2 separate regions of the Homo sapiens genome follow, and region 2 is linked to region 1. The links come from fine-mapping of genetic effects on gene expression. A gene starts in region 1. The other region holds a variant in brackets. All regions are shown on one strand. Distances are between the middles of the regions.

Region 1 (5,389 bases):
CCGATTTGGCCTCCCAAAATATTGGGATTACAGGTGTGAGCCACTACGCCCAGCCTATATTCTTAAGGTTATCAAACTTCCACACCTTTCCTCTGAAACTCCACACTCCAACTCTCTATGCTTTACTTGGCTGTTATATTAGTTATCAGTTGCTGTGTAACAGATTACATCAAATTTAGTGGCTTAAAACAGGAACAATCATTTATTATCTGTCATAGCTTCTGTGGTTTAGGAATTTAGAAGTGGCTTAGCTGGGTGCTTCTGGCTCATCATCTCTCTTGATGTTGCAGTCAGATATTGGCCAAGGCTGCAATCATCTGATGGCCTGACGGGCTGAAGGAGTTCTTCAGCCCAAAAGTTCAATTGTGCCAAGGCTGAGAAACCCTGCTTTAAACCGATGGGACTATACATTTAAAAAATACTAATGTCGTGAAAGACCAAGGCTGACGATTTAAAGATTTAAAGAAAGTAGAAACATAACAAATGCAAGACATTATCAAGATTTGATCTTGAATTTAGAAAAAAAAATCATTAGTATAAAGGACAGTATTGGGAATTAAACAAAATTTGTATATTAAATAATAGTATTCTGTCAATTTCAGTTTCCTGAATTTGATAATTAAACTGGGACTAAGTAAGGGAATGTCTTGTTTCTAAGACTGAAGAGTCATGATATCTGTAATCTACTCTCAAAAGGCCTTACAACAGAAAATACTAGGAATATAATATGTGTATTATAGGTAAGATATGTAAAGAAAGATAAAGCAAATGTGAGAAAAAGGTAACAATGGCTGAATCTAGCTGAAGAATATATGGGAGTTCCTGCAACTTTTCTTAGGATCTAATTTTTTTTTCAAAGCTAAAAACTTAATTACAAATTCACTCTAGCAGAGATATCAGAAACTTAATTTCACTGTTATCATGGTATCCAGTGGCATAAACATTTAGCAATGTTGAGGGGGTAGCTGCCAGTAGAAATGCATAAAATAAAAGTGATTCTGTCTTTGGGAAAAAACAGCTAGGTTTCAGAAGTTGGGAAGGAGATCTATATATTTTTAAAGATAGACTTTAAAGACATAATCCTAAAGAAATACAGCTGATTTAATGGGACTAGTGGAGGTAGCAATCATATAGTAGAAGGAGCACTGGACTCAGAGTAGAAAGACATGGATTCCTGTCTTCTAACATATCCTTGGTTAGGTTAATACATCTCTTTGAGTTACAGTTTTTTCATTTGTAAACCTGGGATACCACTTACTTCACAAGGTAGTTCGGAAGATCAATACGACTATGTATTAATTCCCTATACAGTATTAAAAGTACCATAGAAATGCAACCTAATTTTTTAAAACCATGACTCGCCTCCCTTATTACCCATAAGATTTTTCGTTAAACCCATATAGTAGGTACTCCCTTTGCAGTCTGTGTTTCCACCCACCCTGATCAGGCCTCAAGTAGGATCCAAAATTTCTTCATTTTCCCACAAAAGAATTCCACTCGAGCAAGAAATTTTATTTTACTCGAGTAAAATAAAATACTTTGCTCGAGTAAGTAAAACATCTTATTGAAGAATTTTAGGGGAGACCAGGGTTTGTTTTTGTTTCTGTTTTTTACTACACATGCCCTAGCATTCAAGGGCATCAGTATCCTTTCCAGAGGCCTCCTCCCGCTAGTTCCTCTTCCCAAAACGCTTTGCATTTTTTGTTTCTTTGCTCTGGACTCTCTCTTGAATCTACCCCCTTGAGTCGCTCAGTCGAAGAGACTGAGACTTTCCCTTCTTCATGTTGGGCAACATAATTCTTCCAATTATTTACTTCCAAAAAAGACCCACTAGTACCAAGATTCAATCTACTTTTGAAGGCAGCAGATAATTAAAATGACAATTTTTTTTCTGGCATACTTGTATTCTCGGGTCTATTTCCGAGCTTTCAGTTCTATTCTGGCGACGAATCCTTGTGCCCAAACCATGAAAGACCCCCTAGAGAGATGGAGCAGAAACAAGTCAGAGCGCCTGAAGAGAGCGCTCTCACGGCCTCAGTCCTGGACGCAGGCGCGGAAAGTCCATTAAGTCCCACCCAATCGGGGTATTTCCCACCCCCTAAGCCCGTGCACCGGAAACCATGGGGGCGGAAGAGGTGCTGGGCAGGAGGCGGAAGAGGTGCTGTGCAGGAGGCGGGCGGGCGCGGTTCTTTCCGGAAGGATTGAATCTCCTTTAGCCCCGCCCGCCTCCGTAGCTGCCTGAAGTAGTGCAGGGTCAGCCCGCAAGTTGCAGGTCATGGCGCTGGCTGCTCGACTGTGGCGCCTTCTGCCTTTCCGACGTGGAGCCGCCCCGGGGTCTCGTCTCCCTGCGGGGACTTCGGGCAGCCGCGGGCATTGCGGCCCCTGTCGATTCCGCGGCTTCGAGGTACCCCCGTGGTCCTGGCTCCCGCTCCTCACTTCCTACTCAGTGGGTTCCGGCTCCCCCTTAACTTAAGTGGTGGCGGCCCCGCGCTGCCTAAGGAATGTGGTGAACCGAGGAAAGAACTCGGGGCCACTGTGCCTGGAACGCCCGGACAGGTCCCTTCCATTTTGCAAACCTCCACTATCCTTAACTGGGGCTGTCAGAGAAGGAGTGGGGTTTGCCCCCACGCGCCCCAGAAGCTGCCTGCTACCCGCCCTTCTTGTGCGAAATGTAAAACAGGACGGGAAAGAACCTTGACCGCTGTGAAATTATTCTCCCTGTAGGCGATGACAGATACAACAGCGCTTGAGGCTGCCCCTTTCAGACTTTGAAAAGTGTGGTGTGTGATTTAAAAAGTTCTACGACTCAGAAGCAGAGATTTCATACTGTTTAGGTTTTTGTTTAAAAATGTTTATTTCTCAGTTGCCCGTTGTATCTGCATAACGTCAATGAAGGTTGTCGGCATGTTGTAGTCTCAGTTCTGGTATTTCTATTAGACTGCTCGTGGGCCTCTGTTTATTCTTGTCAGGGAATTGGAATGGCATTAATGCATATGATATATTTCACATGAACTAGGGGTTTCATTATTTTAAACTCAAATTTTTAACTGCTCAGTTAAAATCTTTCAGAATTATTATGGGACTGATGGTGGGGAGGGGTGGTTAAAATTTGGCATATTCCCCTTCCTTGGAAGTTTATAACCAAATGGGGAGGTTATAGATAATATAGGCAGAGAGATGGGAGGAGTTCTAAGTATGAAACTAGTTAGCCGTAAGTTTTCAAATTGGAACAATGATGAGTTTGAAGTCCCATTTTAGGCCTGGCCCCTTGGCTCAGCCTGTAATCCCAGCACTTTGGGAAGCCGAGGCGGAAGGATTGCTTGAGTCCAGGGGTTTGAAACCAGCCTGGGCAACACAGTGAGACCCTGTCTCTACAAAAAAATTTAAAAGTTAGCCATGTACATTTTTATATGTAGTAATTACTATATATGATAATCTTGTCTGTAAGATTCATTTTTATTATGTGTTGGTGTCTCATATTTTACTTCATACAATTTGCAATATCCATGCATTTGCAAATAAGTTGTAGCAAATAAGTTGTAGCTCTTCCTTTCCAGCAGGAGTGTGATTTTTAGATGAGCGGCGACTCCAGGGGATATCTTTTTCTCAATAAGATACGCTTTGAGATAGTTTTACTAAAGATTTTGATGAAGTAATTTTTAAGCTTCCAGTATTATGATCGATTGCTTTGGGGGTGGGAGAAAATTCATGTAATTTTTGCTTGGGGTAGCAGTACCTTCAAATTTTCAAAGTTTGTAACTCTTAACATAATTGTTTCCATAGGTAATGGGAAACCCAGGAACTTTCAAAAGAGGCCTTTTACTCTCAGCTTTGTCGTATTTGGGTTTTGAAACTTACCAGGTTATCTCTCAGGCTGCTGTGGTTCATGCCACAGCCAAAGGTAAGCATAAATTAGATATATGGAACATTTAGAGTTTTTTTGTGTGCGTACATTCAGAATTTTTATTTTAAAACAAAGAATCAGGGTAATGTTAATAATAGAAAATCCATATGGAAATATTCACAATCTGCTCAGTGAGAAATGGGAAAACAACTTCCCTGCCTAACTGCCAACCTACTGTTTGAGGAGCCAGAAGTTGACGTGAAGTTGGAAGAAGGTCACCTTTTCCAGCTAAACCCCACTCCATAGCTATGTGCATTTTTATTTGAAGTCTCCGTGACCAGAGGAAACAGTGAGAACTGAGAACCAAGATACCGTTATCAGCAAGGGTTTGGCTAAAGGGTCTGAGATGTGTAAGCACCAAGAAGGGGAAGGGAAATTGAGCAACATATGAAAAAGGGGCTGTAGGAACACAGAAAAAATAAGTCAACAATAACCTATTTCCATCCAGAGCAAAGGGACAGTGCACACATATTCATCCTCTCAAGTGTGGGCTACACTGTACATTGACTCATACTATCTCGAACATGGTCTGTTGGAAAGATTGAGACCCCCTAAGGGCACTTGGCATAGGACCACAGTGACATGGTAACAGACATAGACAAGCATGGCATGACCCTAAAGGCAACAACACACCTTTAGATAATAATCGTTCAGAAAAAAATCCCAGAGCTGAGGTTATAAATTCCAAGTTAGCTATAAACATTCTTTGGGGAATTCCTTTAAAGATATGAGTTAAAATAAAACAAAATCAACACCTAAAATCTCCTAAAGCACAAAATGGAGAAATAATGAATCTCTACCAAGAACTGATTATTTTAAGTTTCTCATTTGGATGGCTCTCCCACCAGATAGGTGGTGGGATTACTTCAAAAGTAATGAGTCTCCTACAAGGAGGAGTTGTTTGGTCCAGTGAGGGGGAACAAGCTTTCTAGAAATAACTTTCCCTTCCCTTGACTCCATTCAAAATTAGAACCCATCAACCACCATTAACTACAATGCCCATATTAGTTAATAATCCTAGATTTCAAGTACTACTACATGTAAACTATTAAAAGAAAAAAGTTCCAAAGGAAATCAATAACTTTATTATGTAGGCATATGACTTTTATGGGAAATTAAGAGTTTCCATCTGAAGGACAGAAATTGTCAAGAGGTAATGTGCAGACTTCAGGCACCACATAATATACCCTCCAATAATGAACTACATTTCTCCCTAAATTCTTCATATTGCACGCTAACCTCCCCAGCATGAAATCTTCTACTGTATAACCTCTCTTTAAACACCTCCCTCCAATCTCAATTTCCTTCTGTTTTTATTATTTGGCAAAATTACACTTAAAAAAATAAACATTTCCATCATGGGACATGTATACCTATGTAACAAACCTGCGCATTCTGCACCTGTATCCCAGAACTTAAAAAATTATGTAATTAAACCAGAGGGTAAAATAAATAAAACTCAAGTTAATTTGCCTTGTAGAGCTA
Region 2 (5,389 bases), 35 kb after region 1:
TGGTTAAGGAGCAAATGGAGTTAATCATTAATTGTATACAGGAAAAAGTATGCTTTGAATACAGAGGATCTCAGATTGTTAGGGGGACACTTTGTGAAGAATTAAGTTGGTGAGATAATTCCATGTTTTCATTCATAGGCTTTCTGTTTATGCTTTTCTTTCAGCCAAGAATGTTCTCCACTTTTTTTTTTGGTTTCTTGTAGCAGTTCAAAGTTTGTATATCTAGTAAAGCATTCCTTTCATTTTTATATTACATTTAGTTGTGTTCATGTTTCTCTCTTCATTATAAAGTTGAAAAAAACAGAGGTTTTGTTTCATCCTCTATGTTTAAGTATAGCTGACATCCAGTAAATGTTGATCAAATATATATATGTCATCATCATTTCATTCACTTATTCAGCCGATGTACACTGAATGTATGTTATGTTTCACACACTGTTGTAGGCACGTGGGGTACCATAGGGAACTAAAGAGATTAAAAAGAGTATTGCTGTCCTCAAATAGCATACATTCTATCGGGAGCTTCAGCTTCTCATCTATAAAATGGAGATACCTACTTACAAAGTTGTGAAAATGAGAAATGTGTATAATGCAGTGCCTAGCACATTTGTAGATGTTTATTCATTGGTAATTATTATTTTACAAATATTTGTTTGAGATATAAACAGTTGAACAAAAGAGAATTCCCATTAGTCTAATCACTTATTGACCACACAAATTTATTGAAATTTAGACCTCAGAAACAAACCTTTAAAAATAAAAGCAACACTGTTTCCTCTGAGATCATTTTTTCTTTCTTATGTGCAGTGGATCCAAACTTCTACAGCAAAAACTTACTTCTTTTAGGAAAGACATACTTGAAACTACACAACAAAAAGCTTGCTGCTTTCTGGCTAATGAAAGCCAAGGACTATCCAGCACACACAGAGGAGGATAAACAGGTAAAACATCTCCCATAAAGTAAGGCAGAAAGGTTTTGAGGCACTATTAAATGGTGAATTAAGAACTTCTTTAAAAGCATAATTTTCTAAATGCATAATATTGTTGAAAACAAGTGTGTTCATTTCAAGTGTAAATTGATTGACATTTATATTTCTATATAGGAAATAATTTAGTTACTATCACCAGGTGGATGTTACGGGTTGCCTGCTACAATGCAGAATTATTCCTGTTTGACACACATGGCAGATCGAGTTAACATTTCTAAAACATAAAAGTCATGGGATGTGTACTAAAGTGGAAGAGCTGAGAGTCTCATCTGGTCACTGTCAAGACATTTTATTGTTATAATGTCCTATCTGGTTTTTGGAAACTCTTAGAAACCCCACTTTATAAACTTAAATTTCACAAGTTAGTCTCTTAGCTCTCCTGTTTACTTATAACATGTATTTTTCCATTTTAGATACAGACAGAAGCTGCTCAGTTGCTTACAAGTTTCAGTGAGAAGAATTGAGAACTTTTCAGAGAAGATTTATGAAATAGCTAATAAACATTGCCTTTTCTTTTAATTCTAAACTTAATATATGAACTATAACTGTTCTACGGCTTTTTAAATGTTGTGACCATTTAACCGTGTAAATATAAAATATTCTAGGCTTCTTCACAAATAATAGGGTAAAATAAATAATCGCCATAAGAGTGGTAGAAATAAATCTCCATGGCTCAGGCAAAGAGATTATTTTGCATCCTGGATACCAGCAATGCAAAATGGTATGAGATTTCTAAGGATTGATCACATTGGGATGGGAGATCAAGCAAAGAAATATTTGTAGAGGAGGGGAAATGGATCTATAGGGGATATACAGGGGGATGGATTTTCAAATTGGATTGATTCTAAGTTGAAATCTTGAAGAGAAGGTGTGGTGACAGTGGTTAGGATGTTGTGGGTTCCTGACATAAAGTAGTTAAATGATATATCTTGGAGCTAACCTGTGTAAGTAAAGAACTAAGTAAGGAGATGACTAAAAATGGAGTAGTTTCCTTTTTTATTTTTTTGAGACAGAGTCTCACTTTGTTTCCCAGGCTGGTGTGCAGTGGCACAATCTCGGCCCACTGCAGCCTCCGCCTCCCGGGTTCAAGTGATTCTCCTGCCTTAGCCTCCTGAGTGGCTGGGATTACAGGGTTGTACCACCACACTCGGCTAACTTTTGTATTTTTGGTAGAGATGGGGTTTTGCCATGTTGGCTAGGCTGGTCTCAAACTCCTGGCCTCAAGTGATCTGCCCGCCTTGGCCTCCCAAATTGCTGGGATTACAGGCGTGAGCCACCGCACCTGGCCAGTTTACTTTAAATGTGGTGTAGTCTCATGGTAAACTGAATTTGTCATCAGATGCAAAGTTCTATTCCCTAATGGAATGGAAGGAACACAAAACTTAAGAGTGAAATGGAATACTAAGATGTTTTTAAATAGGCAGGACTATGCTACTCACTTGAGGCTGGAGTGCCACCACTGCAAAATCTTTTTAAGTTTTGTAAAAAGGAGCATCTTGAATCCACTTAGATAAAGACAGACTGTGTGTGTAGGTGGATTTTTCCCAAAGGATTTGGGAATTGTAATGTTACAATGAACTGTATGGATATGTTTGTCATGTACATTTTCAAACAAAAAGGAAAACTGAAAGTAGTGATCTTTGTATACCCATCTCTTAGATTCAGTGATTTTGCTATATAGGTTGTGTATCCCTTATCTGAAATACTTGGGACTAGTAGAAGCATCTTGGATTTGGGATGTTTTTCCAAATTTTGGAATACCTGCATACACACAATAAGATATCTTGGAGATGGGACCCAAGTTTAAACACAAATTCACTTGTTTCATATATACCTTATGCACATAGCTTGAAGGTAACTTTATATAACATTATTTTTAATAATTTTGTGCATTGAGACCAAGTTTGCATACCTTGAACCATCAGAAAGCAAAGGTGTCATTATCTCAGCCACTCATGTGGGTAATTTGTGGTTGGTTGATGTCACCATCATTCCTGACTGAATGTATATGCTACCAATAAGCAGTTATTTTCTTATACTTATTCATGCATAAGTACTTAACAGTAAAAAATATGACATAACTCGCA[C/T]AGGAACAAGGATGGCAAAAAAAAAAATATGACACACCACTGATACAGTGAAAAAATAATGTGGTCAGGGTAGCTAGGCAACAGTAGCATCACCAGAAACCTGTATCAGCTGTTAAACGGCAACAACAATGGCAGGCTTTCAGTTTCCCACTTAATGATGCTGTATTTTAAAAGGTTATTGTATACTGTAATTTTATTTTTGTAGGTGAAGAGAAACAGAAGCAGCTGAAGGGCCAGGAAGTGGGTCTTTCTAGGGATGTGGCATTCTGCTGGATGGCTTTTTAAAATGGGTTTTTTCCTTTAGGGAGACCGAATAAACTGTGTTGTGCACCTGCATTTTGACTGTGACCTGTTATGTGAGGTCAGATGTGGAATTTTCTACCTGTAGCATCATTTTGGTGCTCAGAAAGTTTTGAATTATGGAGCACGAATTTCAGGTTTCAGATTTTTGGAAATAGGGATGTTCAACCTGTATTTATACATGTGTGTTTGTGTGTGTATAGACACATACATTTCTAAACCTTTTGAAACTGATTGCAAGCATCATAATAGTTCACCCCAAATGTGTCAGCATGCATTTTCTCAGAATAAAGACATCTTCCTAAACAAACACAAAACCATTATCACAACTGGAGAAGTTAACAGTTCTCTAACATCATCTAATATCTACCCATATTCAAATTTTCTCAAATGTCCCCAAGATGTCTCATGCTTTCTAAAATCAGGATCCAAAGATTATACATTGCATTTGATTTGTTGCTAATCTTTCCATCCACAACAGTTCCCCATCTTTTTCTTCTTGCAACATTGACTTTTTGAATAGGCCAGTCCGGTTGTCATAGATTCTCTCGCATTCCAGATTGGTCTAATTGACCACACTTTGAGAACCGCTGTTCCAACTTATTTCCAGGACTCAAATTAGTTCTATTAGATCTTTGCCTGACTTTCACATTTATCACTTACTGATTTTTCTTTTAGCCTTTTTGTTTCATTTTCTTGGCTCTTTTCATTTATATCTTCCATATCCCTTATTTTACATTTGGTTGTATCTCTTCTTCCTTAGATACTTTATAATTGCCTTCACATCTGATATGTGTTTGTCTTTTTCTCCGAATTTTTTTCCTGATTTTAGCCAGTCATTCACATCTGCATTTTGTTTGTCCAGTTCTGAGTTTTTAAGTTGCTATTTCAGATTTTTTAAATATCTAATAATTTAATTCATATTAGCATATTGTGTTAAAGTTTACTCTCCTTTTTCTCATTTTCAATTTCTCTTTAGAGTGACTTTATTTTTTTTCCCTAGGGATGTAATTTTATGTTGAGTTACCAGCAATACTAGGTCATCAAATGGGAAGAAAGGGTCTGGGTTAGTTCAAGAATATTTTCTGCTTAGTTGTTTGTTTTTTGTGAGATCAGGTATCATTCAATAATAAAGCTTTTTATGGAGGTCTTACCTCCTGATTCCTTATTAGAACTTTAAAAAATATTTTTACTTTCAAAAAATCATAGATTCACAAATTGAAAAAAAAAAAAAAAAGATCCTGTGTACCTTTCTCTCAGCCTATCCCAGTGCTAACATCTCATATAACCTGTAGTACAATAGCAAAACCTGGAAACTGACATTGGTACAGACCACAGACCTTATATTTAAATTTTACCACTTTTAAATGCTCTTGTGTGTATAGTTGTATGCAATTCTATCACATGTAGATTTTTGGTAACTGCCACCATAATCAAGATACAGACCTGTTCCGTCATCACAAAGATCCCCAGTGCTGTCCCTTTACAGTCACACCCATCTACCTCCTCCTCTCCCCCACCCATCCCTAACTCTGACAGCACTAATCTGTTCTCCATAATTTTGTTATTTCAACAATGTTATACAAATGGAATCATACAGTGAGACCCTGTGATACTTTTTTTCACTCAACATAATTCCCTTGAGACCTAAGTTCTATCAATAGTTTGTTTCTTTTTACAGTTGACTAGTATTTCATTTTATGGGCATACCATATCAACCATATGCTGAGGGGCATTTAGGTTATTCCTGATTTTTAGCTATTACAAATAAAGCTGCTATGAGCATTATATGCAGGTTTTTATGTCTACATAGATTTTATCTCTCTGGGATACATGCCCAGGAGTGTGGCTCCTGGGTCCTTTTATCTTCATTTTTCCCCTTTACTCTCTGAGGGTTAGGTTTCTTCTGCAAGACATGGTGCCTTCCCAAGATTCTGATTCTGTGCACTAAGTCTCTTCCATTTGACTTCCCAGGAGCCTGATTCCCCACGTGTCACATTGGTCCGTGACGTT

Alleles and levels. Positions count from the first base shown, and alleles are read on the strand shown. Sizes are in standard deviations (SD) of each study's normalised expression.
In carriers of allele T in region 2, the expression in adrenal gland of the gene that starts at base 2,210 in region 1 tends to be lower than with C alone (small effect, 0.26 SD a copy in GTEx).

What was found. PIP is the estimated chance that this variant, and not a neighbour inherited with it, causes the effect.
Region 2: its variant is fine-mapped to the expression of RMDN1 in adrenal gland (GTEx, PIP 0.92).

What each region holds. Positions count from the first base shown.
Region 1 is chr8:86,505,507-86,510,895 of GRCh38, reverse strand. It overlaps RMDN1 (regulator of microtubule dynamics 1), which reads left to right and starts at 2,210. Exons shown (of 10, transcript NM_016033.3): 1 at 2,210-2,404; 2 at 3,784-3,901. The coding sequence starts at 2,276. It also overlaps the pseudogene SLC2A3P4. RefSeq lists an enhancer at 2,296-2,465.
Region 2 is chr8:86,470,372-86,475,760 of GRCh38, reverse strand. It overlaps RMDN1 (regulator of microtubule dynamics 1), which reads left to right. Exons shown (of 10, transcript NM_016033.3): 9 at 808-941; 10 at 1,403-3,412. The coding sequence ends at 1,453. Among named protein-coding and RNA genes, the nearest start is that of RMDN1, 36 kb to the left of the region's middle. The variant C/T (reference allele first, on the strand shown) is at 3,077.